4 linked regions of the Homo sapiens genome follow. The protein of the gene in region 3 purifies or fractionates together with the protein of the main gene of each other region. This does not show direct contact. Each region holds a gene or a part of one and is shown on either strand. Other genes may lie near its edges.

Region 1 (3,500 bases), on a different chromosome or scaffold from region 3:
ACCCTTCCCTGAGAACCTGGGTTTGAAATTGTCTGACAGGCCTCAGATGTGGCACAGACCAGCATTGTCACTTGGGTGCTAAGAAGTTGCTGTGCTGGTCATGGATTAAGATTGCTGTGCGTGTGGCAGCCGGCTCGGGCATGCGAGTCTTCCATCCACTTGCAGCCCTGCGTCTGTGTCTTGTCCGGGAGGTGGGGGCAGTTGGGAGGGTTAGAGGCGGCTCCTTTCTGGGTGCCCCTGGAGGGGCAGGTGTGGCCAGTCCTCGCTGCCTCTGCTGTCTGGAATGCTGCTTCCCTCTTGTGTCATTGACCATTTCTCGTGATGCTGGTTGTGACTCAGGAGAGTAGATGACGGGCCGTGTGCCGGCCGGATGTACGCTGACGGTGCCTCTGCTGCTGCAGGTGTACGCGGTGGAGGCCAGTGAGATGGCACAGCACACGGGGCAGCTGGTCCTGCAGAACGGCTTTGCTGACATCATCACCGTGTACCAGCAGAAGGTGGAGGATGTGGTGCTGCCCGAGAAGGTGGACGTGCTGGTGTCTGAGTGGATGGGGACCTGCCTGCTGGTGAGGGCGGGCGTGCGGGCAGCTGGGGGCCGGAGCTGGGGGGCTTCTGAGCACGGGCTCGGCTGGGCCAACCTCAGGATCTCAAGGGTCGTGCGTGATTCATTTTGATGTTTTCCCTAATGTGAGGTCTAATTAATTTCTTGTGTGGACATTGGCTCAGTGTCTTGAATTTTCACCTGATTTAAAAAATGCCTTTATGAGAAATTTAAGTCAAAGTTCATGTAACATTTTCATGAGTGATTTACATGAACTGTGTTCTCCTCGGGGATCTGTAAAAATCCTGTGCCTAACAGGTAAGGCTGTTTCTTTAATGCCAGTAGGGCCTTCGTCCCTGGCCAGGGTCTCCTCGCCTTAGACTGGCCCCAGTGATGCTGTGAAGCCACTTGGGCATCTGTAGGGCCAGCATATGCCTGTCCTGTCAGGGTTGCTCACCCTGAGTTTCACATGTGGGTGGAAGTGGACTGTTTTCTGGTTGCCTGTGAATATGCCCTGCACAAACGCTGTCTGCTTGGAGGGAAGTTGACGGGAGTGTGGCTGGATGCTGTCTGCCCGCGCTGTCTTCCTGGGCTCAGCATCCTGGGACACAGGACATTGTAGTGGAGCATCCCAACCTGAAACTTTGTCTCAGTGTAGAGACCCAGAAAGATGGGGTCTGGGTGAAGGAGTGTGGAGTATGGCTGCTGCTTTCCAGGAAACGGTTTCCCCTGGTAACAGATGGCATTGGGCTTTTAGTCCTGTTGAAATTTTGTTGTCAGAAGATAAATGTAAATAGACTCAATGTCCATGCTGTGACTTGGCTTATTAATAACATCTGTGGAGCCATAAGATGACACACAGGAGAAACGGGCTCCACTCCTACCCCCTGAAGGGGCATTTGCCTTTGCCCTGAACAGCAGCGCCCATTCAATAAGTATCTGTTGACAGCTGGTGCCCCGGCCACGGGGACAAAAAGAGGACAGAGCAGGAGTGAGGCTGTGGTGAGGCCAAGGTTGTGTGGGCGGTGATACGGGGAAGCCTGGCTGCTGGAGTGTCCGGCTGTGCCCTGGATTGGGTGAGAGGGACACAGGAGGGACGTGGGGCAGAGGGAGGGGAGAGGAGTAGCCACTGTGTTCACCGTGTTGCCGTGTTCCAGGGCTGCCCAGTGGCCGGATTGGCCAGACTGTGTTGCATCAGGGAGGCAGAGGCCAGATGTAGGGAACTGTGTGTCTGAGGACTTTGTGCCACGTCCTGGACACCGAAGGGAGTGCCACTGGTGTGTGAGTGATGGAGTAAGAGGTGGGCTGTGTTTTGGAGGCCCCTGGGTATGTGTGGCCGGGACTGGAGGCCAGGGACTGGCTGTGGTCCAGCCCCAGCATGCAGAGAGGCCTGGGACATTCTGTGTGAGGGGAGGCCCCTCTGTGTGGGAGGTGCACAGACTTCCAGGACTGACCATGGCTTTATTGTCAGGATGCAGGAGCCAGGGCTTGGCATGGGGCAGGTGTGGGGGATGCAGAGCAGGGCCAGCAGGCAGGATGTGCTGATGGGGGCCTGGCGTGAGCAGGACGGTGCCTCCCAGCCCTGAGCCGCAGGGAGTGGGCCACCAGGACTGGCTGGGGGCCGGGGTAGGGAGGGCCCTGGGGAGGGTGGACATCTGTGTGGGTCTTGAACATAGGATGCCCATCCGATGTGCAGGGCCAGCTATTGGTTGGGCAGTGGGGACATGGCCTGGGGTCTCGGTGGGCGATGGCCTGGAGGGGCCACCCTGAGCAGGACATTTGGAGGAGTGCTGGGGTGAGTCAGACAGGACCATGTGGTGGTTTTCTCCAGTGCAGGCAGTGGAGGGGGAAGGCGGAGCTTTGCAGGTGAGGGCTTGAGGCAGTTCCGACTTCAGACTCCCCCCCAGGGAGACTGAGGGACCACCACCATCATTACTCAGGCCAAGGAGGCCCAGAACAGGGCAGACGGGGCTGCAAGAGTTCCTATGGCGATAGTTGTTGGGGCACAGGGTTGGTCGGATTTGAGGGAGGGAGGGTATGAATCTGGGAGTCGTTGGTGCGGTTGTACCCACCTTCACTTTCCGTCCCCAGGCTGCGCCTCTCCTGAGCTGCCGCATTCTCCCCTGCACCTGTGCGTCTGGCCCTCTTCACGTCCTCCTGGCCTGCTGTCTGCCTCTCCCCTGCACCTGTGCGTCTGTCCCTCTTCATGTCCTCCTTGCCTGCTGTCTGCCTGTTCTCAGAGCCCCTCAGCCCTCAGGCCTTCATCTCTCCTGGCCCATCTTCCTACTCTGACGCTGACATGTAGTAAAAGTCTGAAGACAGAGAAGAGTGCATGTGCGTTTAGCATAGGAGGGGCAGCTTTCAGTCAGTGCAGCAAGGGCATGTAGTTGTTCAGAGATGGTGCTGGAACGACTGATTTGGAGAAAAGAGGCCCTTCTTCACACCATCTGCTAAAATAAACCTCAGATGGGCTCAAGAGTTAAATATTTAAGAAAAGGAGGAAACAAAAAAATTGCTACAAGTTTATTTGTTGTTAGGATGGGAAAGGTTTTTCTAAGAACCAAGTTCATAATGAAGCTGTCAAATAAAATACTTGACAAAAAATTCCCCTTCATACATTAGCACAGCTAAAAACTATTAAATGGTAAATGCAACTAAAGAATTGCAGCTAAAGAATTGTGTGACGTAAAGAGTTGCAATAAGAAAAGCATAAGATAAAGGTAACCTCATGGAAGGTGAGCAGGGACTAGAAAGGCAGAGAAATGCCAGAGGCCAGGAGCTTGAACGTTGTTCAATGCCACCAACAATTTGAAAGTAACTGTAATAGTTTTGACCTGGGAAGTTGGCTGAGCAATCCTCTAATATCTGATGCTCCCGATGCTGAGGTTGTGGGGAAGTGTGCACCGCCATGCCCTTTTTTTGGCAGTGTAAATTGGTAAAGCCTTTTGAAGGAAAATAG
Region 2 (2,398 bases), on a different chromosome or scaffold from region 3:
TCATTCAGTTGAAGAAGTGCCCATGCCGACTTTGCTTCTCCCAAGGAAACCTGGCCATCTTTGTCTCCATCAGCCACCGTCAAGATGAGATTAACCAGTTCAGAGAGGTTTCCTTGGTCACCCAATTTTGCCTGTCAAGAATTTGGCTAGTTACACAGAAGGAATGAAAAATACCTCCCATGCAACATACTAAGTTTCTTTACGGGCATTATTAACCATGCCAGAAATAATCTTGGTACTGAATCCCCAAACAGGAACTTAATGTATTATATCTCCAAATATTTATGATACTTCCTAAGTGAACTAGAACCATGCTTTATGTAACTGCAGTAAAACCCACTTTAAAATACTTGTCTGTTTGTTAGGAAATGGCCACTAACTCCCCTGTCCCCTTCAGGCCCCTTAGATAGTTAACCAACAATGTAATTATTCCTCATTCATACATTAAAAAACCACCGCCTCATATGTGGACTTGAAAAATTGTACTGTAATGTACTTACATCAAAGTTACAATAAGGGTCAACTAAAAATTATTTTCCTTTTTTTAGAGATGGGGATCTCACTATGTTGCCCAGGCTGGTCTCAAACTCCTGGGCTCAGGTGATCCTCCTACCTCAGCCTCCCAAAGTGCTCGGATTACAGGCATGAGCCAGCATGCCTGGCCTAATTATTTTATCCTATTTTGTATTTATCACAATAATTATTTTGTTCAAATAGTAGTATTACAATAATGAAGATTAAAAAGTATTTCCGTTAGTCTGAAATACATGTAAAATGGCCAAATAAAAAATTTGAGTGAAAATAAAAGAGCAATGAAAATAAAACTTTTTTCTAAAACTTTGTTTTATTTCTATTTAATCTATATATTAGTATTTCTTTTTTTTTTTTTTTTTTTTTTGAGACGGAGTCTCGCTCTTTCGCCCAGGCTGGAGTGCAGTGGCGCGATCTCAGCTCACTGCAAGCTCCACCTCCCAGGTTCACGCCATTCTCCTGCCTCACCCTCCCGAGCAGCTGGGACTACAGGCGCCTGCCACCACGCCCAGCTAATTTTTTTTTGTATTTTTAGTAGAGACGGGGTTTCACCATGTTAGCCAGGATGGTCTCGATCTCCTGACCTTGTGATCCATCCGTCTCGGCTTCCCAAAGTGCTGGGATTACAGGCGTGAGCCACCGCGCCCGGCCTATATTGGTATTCCTTTAAATTAAAAAAATAATTTGCAGAGTACCGTTTTTTTTTTTTTTTTTTTTGCATAGGAAGAACTGCTATGCTTTTTTTCCCGTTAGTTTTAGTGACATGTAATAACTACAAATTTATGGGATACTGATGGGCACAATTGCTCAAGCCAGTAATTCCAGCACTTTGGGAAGCCAAGGTGGGCAGATAGCTTGAGCTCAGGAGTTCTAGACCCGCCTGGGCAACATGGTGAAACCGTGTCTATGCTAGAAAAAAAAAAAAAAAAAAAAACCGTCTCTGCTGAAAAAAAAAAAAAAATGCTGGATGCGGTGGCTCACGCCTGTAATCCCAGCGCTTTGGGAGGCTGAGGCGGGTGGATCACCATGAGGTCAGGAGTTCGAGACCAGCCTGGCCAAAATAGTGAAATCCCATCTCTACTAAAAATACAAAAATTAGGTGTGGTGGCGGGTGCCTGTAATCCCAGCTACTCGGGAGGCTGAGGCAGGAGAACTGCTTGAATCTGGGAGGCAAGGTTGCAGTGAGCTGAGACCATGCCACTGCACTCCAGCCTGGGCAACAGAGCGAGACTCCGTCTAAAAAAAAAAAAAATTAGCCAGGTGCGGTGGTGCGCCTGTGATCCCAGCTACTTGGGGGGCTGAGGCAGGAGGATGGCTTAAACCCAGGAGGCTGAGGCTGCAATGAGCCGAGATCATGCCACTGCACACTCCAGCTTGGGCACCAGGGCAAGACCCTGCCAAAACAAAACAAAACAAATAACCAACCATCTTTTAAAAAAAGAAAGAAAGAAAAAAAATCCCCAGGCCTCCTGGTGCTTACCCCAGGCTGTGTTCTTATACTGACTGTATAGAATGAGGAGGTGAACTCCCATGTACACCTCAGCCCAGGCCCTGCGCCTTGTCTGTATTGTGAACGGGAGCACACAGAAAAAAAATTCATGGGATACATAGTGATATTTCAATACACACATACAATTTGTAATGATCAAATCAAGGTAATTAGCATATTTATGTCTCAGTTATCATTGTGTTGTGAACATTCACAATCCTTTTAGTTTTTTGAAAATAACCAAAAATTATTAATCCCTTTACCCTATAGTGCTATAGAACACTAGAACTTATTCTGCCTATCTAGCGGTAATTTTGTATCTGTTAACCAACCTCTCCTTATTCTCCTCTCCTCTGTACCCTTCCCAGCCTCTAATAG
Region 3 (3,500 bases):
TTATCCCATTATGTGTGTTTTGATGTAGCAGGACCTTACCAGTTTTTTTTGTTTTTTTATTTTTATTTTTTTTGGTTTCTTTTTTGAGATGGAGTCTTGCTGTGTTGCCCAGGCTGGAGTGCAGTGGCACAATCTTGGCTCACTGCAACCTCCACCTCCCGGGTTCAAGTGGGAGCCTCAGCCTCAGCCTCAGCCTCAGCCTCCCGAGCAGTTGGGATTACAGGCACCTGCCACCATGCCTGGCTAATTTTTGTATATTGAGTAGAGGCGGGGTTTCACCATGTTGGCCAGGCTGGTCTTGAACTCCTGACCTCATGATCTGCCGCCTTGGCCTCCCAAAGTTCTGGGATTACAGGTGTGAGCCACTGTGCCTGGCCGGCCTTATCAGTTTTTATGTAATTTGTCCTGATTTAAAAAAAAAAAATCACATGCGGGTAAACTCAACATATTTTAATTTCTCTTTAGAGAAATTTTCCACTTGAGCCAGGTATGGTGGCTCTTGCCTGTAATCTGAGCTACTCGGGAGGTTGAGGTGGGAGGATCACTTGAGCCCAGGAGTTGGAGGCTGCAGTGAGCCATGATCGCACCATTGCACTCCAGCCTGGACAACAGAGTGAGATCCTGTCTCAAAAATTAAAAAAAGCAGTAATTTTTTCTTCTCAAGTCATTCTTTTAAAATAAATCAAAAGTATTTTAACAGAACAATCTGTTCCTCGTTGATTTTAAACAGCCCCCCAGCTAAGTCCACTGGTTGTCGGTCTCCATGGCCCATCTCCCCACCTTGCTTCCTCGCTGGCTTAAATTTTCAAGTGGACGAGCCCTTTTCAGCTTGGCTTGTCCACCTCCCAGGTGTGTTTCCTGAAGATGCTTGTACTTATGTCTAAGAGCGGCAGCTCCCCACATCTCAGCCACCTGCAATCGTTGAGGGTTGTTGGACTCTAAACTTATGTGCCTTTCCTGTTTCCTCTTTGCCTTTTGCAAATTGAAGAACCGTGTAAAACCATTTTTATGTGGCTTCAACGTCAACTATAAATTAGCTTGGTTATCTTCTAGGAGAAATGCTATTTATTTTGGAGTAGTAGTAAAAAGGGCTCAAAGGATAAGGAGGCCATTCAGGCCTATTCTGAATCCCTGATGACATCAGCTCCCAAGGGCTCTGTGCTGCAGGAAGCAAAACTGTAGGTGGGTACCAGGTAATGCCGTGCGCCTCCCCGCCCCCTCCCATATCAAGTAGAATGCTGGCGGCTTAAAACATTTGGGGTCCTGCTCATTCCTTCAGCCTCAACTTCACCTGGAGTGTCTACAGACTGAAGATGCATATTTGTGTATTTTGCTTTTGGAGAAACTGCCCTTCCTATGTTCTGAGTGAATAGCAGTTTTTTTGATCCCAGAGGGCAACTTGTATTCTGTGGGCTGGTGCCTATTTGCAAGGTCACATTAGAAAGACAGGAGCAAGGCTTAGGCCTGCTGCTTCTGGAATCTCTTGTGCAATAGACTCCCCTGGGGAAGTCTGCTAGAAATGCAGATCCCTGGGCAGCCTTCTAGCCTTCTGGAATAGGATCATGGTGGGACCCTGGAATCTGTATTTTAATGGACCCTAATGAGATTCTGATGTAGAAACATGTTTGAGAGGCATTGATCTAAATCTGGGATGACTGGCCAGGTGCGGTGGCTCACACCTGTAATCCAGCACTTTGGGAGGCCGAAGCAGGTGGATCATTTGAGGTCAGGAGTTCAAGACCAGCCTGGCCAACATGGTGAAAACCTGTCTCTACTAAAAATACAAAAAAAATTAGCTGGGTGTGGTGGCACACGCTTGTAATCCCAGCTACTCAGGAGGCTGAGGCAGGAGAATCGCTTGAACCCGGGAGATGGAGGTTGCAGTGAGCCAAGATCGTGCCACTGCACTCCAGCCTGGGTGACAGAGTGAGACTCCGTCTCAAAAAAATAAAACTAAAATAAATAAATAAATAAATACATCTGGGATGACTGACCAAGAACAAAGAATGTAGGCATCAACTGAACACCAACTGTATACCTGGGACTGGATCTGAGGGTAGGATTGCCAGATTGAGCACAAACAAACAAACGAAACACAAGAAACAACAGAAGGGTGCCTGTTAAATATGAATTTCTGGTAAGCAATAAGTAATTTTTATTGTGTTCCTGTGCAATGATAGGACGCACGTATCCTGAAAACCTGTCTGTAGTTCACCTGAAATTCACATTTAACTAGGCGTTCTGATTTTATGTGGCCGCCCTATCTGCTGGGAACATAGGCTGATGCCCCTGGGGGTTCTGCGTTTCCTTGGCCAGGTTCCTGTAGGGCTGAGGTCATGGGGGAGCCGTGGCCAGGGATGGTGTCCTTGCCAGGGGAGGTGACGGGCAGAGCTGCAGGCCCTACAACTTGGGGTTGGGCAGGGATGAGTCGCTCTACCGTGGTGCCTCTGATAATAGCTGTTATTTTAGTTTCTGAAAAATGTGCTGCCCTCAAGAGCTTCTGAGGCTAGGCCTACTTGGGTGAAAATAGCTTTCCAGGGAGCCACATTGTGGGGACGTGAGGCAGCAGCCCCACTCTTTGGGGCCACTTGGCTGTCTCTAACTCATCTCACTTGCCAGGGCTGGACAAGGAGATGAAAAAGAAAATGCCAAGGGGTGGGCAGGCAGGAGCCTGTTGGCGTTGGCAGGCGCTGCCAGCCCTGTGTCCCAGTCAAGCTCTGGGGCGCCCTTCCTGTCCATCTGGGAGTAGGGGGTGGAGTCTGACCATGTTGGGGTGGAGTGTTAATATTAGGAGAGGATCCTCCCTGGGACAGGGTCCCCAGGCTTGGGGGCAAGGCCTTCTGCCTGGACCCCCTTCCTTTCCTCTCTCCCAGGATTCCTCCAGGACACCGTAGTGCTGTGCACGGTTTGGCCCCATCGGTGTGCCTGCTCCTTCCAGCCACTGCTCCCTTCTGCAGAAACTTGCCTGGGATTCCCAGGGTGCAGGGGTGGGGGCTGGTCAGGGGCTGGTCAGGGCCTGGTCAGTGTAGAGCAGGGAGCTTTTCACTTTTAGCATAGATAGAGTGGCCAGGGCCCCATGGCTGCACCTCCCTGGACATAACCAGGATGTCCTGTCATCTGCCCCCCAAACAAAACTGGGGTCTCCCCTTTATTTTGCCAACAGAATCCAATTTTTAGGTGATGAGACAAGTGTTTGACTTGAAAAGACCCTCCTGCCCTGCCTCCTGGAAGGTCTGGAGCCCAGCCCAGCGCCCCGGATCCCCTAGGCATGTGAAACGGGGAATGCAGTGTCCTCCAGTGGCTGGCTGCAGCTTGGGGTGGGCACCTGGGTGGTGGCTGGTGGTCCCCCTGCAGGCCACTGCTGCCCCCTCTTGGGTCCTGTTCTGAGTCTCAGGCCTGAGTCCCTGGGGAAGGCCCCACACCTTTGCCCTGTACCTGGGTATGGGGATGGCCCTGAGGGGCTGCCTTGCTTGGGAGAAGGGGGGAAAACAGATATTTTT
Region 4 (3,500 bases), on a different chromosome or scaffold from region 3:
ATGCCTCCTACCTCCCAGCCTCTGTACCCACCATTCTGCTCTCGTATTAGGAGTTCAATTGTTTTAGATTCCACATATAAGTGAAAATGTGCAGTATTTGTCTTTCTGTGCTTGACTCATTTCACTCAGCACAGTGTTTTCCAGTTCCATCCATGTTGTTGCAAATGACAGAATTTTCTTCTTTTTAAAGGCTGAATAGTATTTCATTGTGTATATATACACATTTTCTTCATCCATTCATCTGTTGATGGACACTTACCTTGATTCCATAACTTAGCTATTGTTCATACTGCTGCAGTGAACATGGGGGTGCAGACAGCTCTTTGACAAACTGATTTTAGATCTTTTGGGTAAATAGTAAAGTGGGATTACTGGATTATATGGTAATTCTGTTTTTAGTTTTTTGAGGACCTTCCATACTGTTTTTTATAATGGCTGTACTAATTGACATTTTCACAAAGCATCCCTTTTCTCCACATCTTCATCAGCACTTACTCTCTTTCATCTTTTTGATAAAAGCCATTCTGACAGGTGTGAAATGATATTGGGGTTTTAATTTGCATTTCTCTAATGACTAGTGATGTTGAGCATTTTTCATGTATTAATATCTTTTGCTCATTTATATGTTTTCTTTTGAGAAACATCTAGGTCCCTTGCCTTTTTTTTTTTTTTTTTTTTTGAGACAGGAGTTCGCTCTGTCACCCAGGCTGGAGTGCGGTGGCACGATCTCGGCTCACTGCAACCTCCACCTCCTGGGTTCAAGTGATTCTCCTGCCTCTGCTTCCCAAGTAGCTGGGATTATAGGTGCACGCCACCCCACCTGGCTAATTTTTCTGTTTTTATTAGAGACGGGTTTCACCATGTTGGTCAGGCTGGTCTCGATCCCCTGACCTTAAGTGATCTGCCCACCTTGGCCTCCCAAAGTGCTGGGATTACAGGTGTGAGCTGTAACGCCCAGCCCCTTGCCCATTCTTTTTTTTTTAATTTTTTTTATCTTTTTTTATTTTTTGAGACGGAGTCTTGCTCTGTCGCCCAGGCTGGAGTGCAGTGGCGTGATCTCGGCTCACTGCAAGCTCCACCTCCTGGGTTCACGCCATTCTCCTGCCTCGGCCTCCCGAGTAGCTGGGACTACAGGTGCTCGCCACCACGCCCGGCTAATTTTTTGTATTTTTAGTAGAGACGGTGTTTCACCGTGTTAGCCAGGATGGTCTCGATCTCCTGACCTCGTAATCCGCCCGCCTTGGCCTCCCAAAGTGCTGGGATTACAGGGGTGAGCCACCACGCCCGGCCTGCCCATTCTTTTAATTGGGTTTTTTGTTTTCTTGCTATTGAGTTGTTTGAGCTTATGTATTTTGGATATTAACTCCTTCTTGGATATATGGCTTGCTAATTTTATCTCCCAGTACCTAAGTTGTCTATGTCTACTGTTAATTGTTTCCTTTGTGCAAAGAAGCTTTTTATATTGATGTAATCCCATTTGTCTATTTTTGCTTTTGTTGCCCGTGCTTTTGGGATCAAATCCAAAAAATCATTGCTCAGACCAGTGTTATGTAGTGTTCTCCCTATGTTTTCTTCTAGCAGTTTTACAGTTTCTGGTCTTACAGTAAAGGTATCTTGGTAAGGTTACATAATCAAACAAATACTAATTGTCCAATACCATGTATGTGCTACATACAAATTCAGCATTTGTTAGTGTGGTTTGTATTCTTGGAGCCTTCTGGGAAATGAACTTACATTTAAAGATTTAAGACTGACTGTTAATTAACTCTCTCTTCTTCTCTATCCTAGTTTCTCTTTCTATGATTGGGCCTCATGGATATATCTCTGCATCAGATTGGCCCCTAATGATTGTGAGTATTTCTCATCATTTTTTCCTTTTTAAAAAATGAATTTTATACCCTAAGAGCTTTGTGGTAGTAATTCCTCAGTAGTTAATGCTTTGACATATCCTGTATTTCTGGTTCCAGAGTGACTGGAAAATGAAGGGTTGGATACTTGAATGTAGAAGTGCCAACTTTCAAATGACCAAAAGGCTTAACTGACTAAAATTGCTTCTCTTCCTACAGTTTTACATGGTGATGTGTATTGTTTATATATTATATGGCATACTCTGGCTGACGTGGTCTGCCTGTTATTGGAAAGATATATTAAGAATCCAGTTCTGGATTGCAGCTGTTATTTTTTTGGGAATGCTTGAAAAAGCAGTTTTTTATAGTGAATACCAAAACATCAGCAACACTGGACTGTCAAGTAAGTTTTGACTGTCTCTGTAAATATAGTATGATCTAAGAGTTCCCCAGTATTTATGAGCAGAGCAGTGGGAGGCCCCCTTCTGAACAGTGGTTTGGAAACAGATATATTATAGATGAAGAGAAGGAAAGCCAAGGAAAGAATGTCAGAGTAGGCCTCTGATCTGGCCAAGCATGTGTCTTCTCTTCATTATCTGTTTTCCTTCTTGCTAAATTTCCCCTCACTTTCCTCCTGGGAAAAATAAAAGTCCCGTTTCCTAAGGTTCAGCTTGGATTAAAACAGCACAAAGTTCGGGACAGGGAGACTTCAGGTGCTGTCAATCCTTTTAACATACTTCTCCTTCCCCCCACATCTTCTTTTCTTTCTCCTTCTCCTTCAAAAAACGAAAGGAAATTGGCCGCAGGGAGTAAAATCAGGGGTGCTGGAAGGGATGGTGCCTGCAGCCTCCTTGTGCTCTCCCCACCTCTTTACTCCCACAAAGATCTTCATATAACCAGTGGAGGCACCATCACAGTTTACGCAGTGGAATATGTGAAGCAGGCAGGCCATACAGCTGGGCATCCTCAGATGTGTGCCCCAGACTTCTAGAAAGTGGATTTCAGGCCAGAGAAGTAAAGGTACAACTCTCCCACCAAAGCTTTGGAAAGAGAGAGCTCAGAGAGGTTGAAGGTGCTCAAGAGTGTACTTCTGAGTGACCAGTTACAAATGATCTTGGTGCAGATCTTCAAAGGGCATGATTTTGTCTGTTATTGATTGATTGACAAGGTCTTGATCTGTTGCCCGGTCTAGAGTGCAGTGGTGCGATTTTTGCTCACTGCAGCCTCGACCTCCAGGCCCAAATGATCTGCCCACCTCAGCCTCTGGAGTAGCTGGCACTATGTGTCTGTTACTTATTTTGAAATACTCTAGAAAAAAAATGAATTGGACTATAGATGAAACAAATTTGGCGTAACGTTGCTAATTATTGAAGCTGCATGATGGGCACAAGGGAAATCATTATATTGCTTTCTCTCTTTTTGGGAGTATTTGAAATTTCCCCAAATAAAAAGTTTAAAAGGACATGTACCAAAGAATAAAGAAAGGACAAACATCCAGGATGCATATTAGAGATATCACTACTCTGTAAGAAGTTTTTTATGGTGTGTGTGTGTGTGTGTGCGTGTGCGTGTGCGTGCATGTGTGCTCTAAACCAGATGATGAAGGAAGGGTAGATCTGCTGCTTAGAATTGAAGCATTCCTGAATGTAGAGA

Evidence for each region. The genes of interacting proteins can lie anywhere in the genome.
Region 1: the proteins of SCARB1 (region 3) and PRMT2 purify together in Homo sapiens (pull-down; one study listed by IntAct). This does not show direct contact.
Region 2: the proteins of SCARB1 (region 3) and DIPK1A purify together in Homo sapiens (co-immunoprecipitation; one large-scale study listed by IntAct). This does not show direct contact.
Region 4: the proteins of SCARB1 (region 3) and TMEM87B fractionate together in Homo sapiens (co-fractionation; one large-scale study listed by BioGRID). This does not show direct contact.

What each region holds. Positions count from the first base shown.
Region 1 is NC_000021.9:46,649,174-46,652,673, forward strand, and holds part of PRMT2 (protein arginine N-methyltransferase 2), read left to right. Parts: intron 1-401; coding exon 402-566; intron 567-2,632; coding exon of another isoform or gene 2,633-2,833; exon of another isoform or gene 2,834-3,500. UniProt on the Homo sapiens protein: Arginine methyltransferase that methylates the guanidino nitrogens of arginyl residues in proteins such as STAT3, FBL, histone H4. Acts as a coactivator (with NCOA2) of the androgen receptor (AR)-mediated transactivation.
Region 2 is NC_000001.11:92,844,065-92,846,462, forward strand, and holds part of DIPK1A (divergent protein kinase domain 1A), read right to left. Parts: intron 2,119-2,398; exon of another isoform or gene 1,995-2,118; intron 132-1,994; coding exon 1-131.
Region 3 is NC_000012.12:124,780,365-124,783,864, reverse strand, and holds part of SCARB1 (scavenger receptor class B member 1), read left to right. Parts: intron 1-1,053; coding exon 1,054-1,182; exon of another isoform or gene 1,183-1,193; intron 1,194-3,163; exon of another isoform or gene 3,164-3,266; intron 3,267-3,500. UniProt on the Homo sapiens protein: Receptor for different ligands such as phospholipids, cholesterol ester, lipoproteins, phosphatidylserine and apoptotic cells. Receptor for HDL, mediating selective uptake of cholesteryl ether and HDL-dependent cholesterol efflux.
Region 4 is NC_000002.12:112,079,269-112,082,768, forward strand, and holds part of TMEM87B (transmembrane protein 87B isoform 1 precursor), read left to right. Parts: intron 1-1,788; coding exon 1,789-1,850; intron 1,851-2,066; coding exon 2,067-2,250; intron 2,251-3,500. UniProt on the Homo sapiens protein: May be involved in retrograde transport from endosomes to the trans-Golgi network (TGN).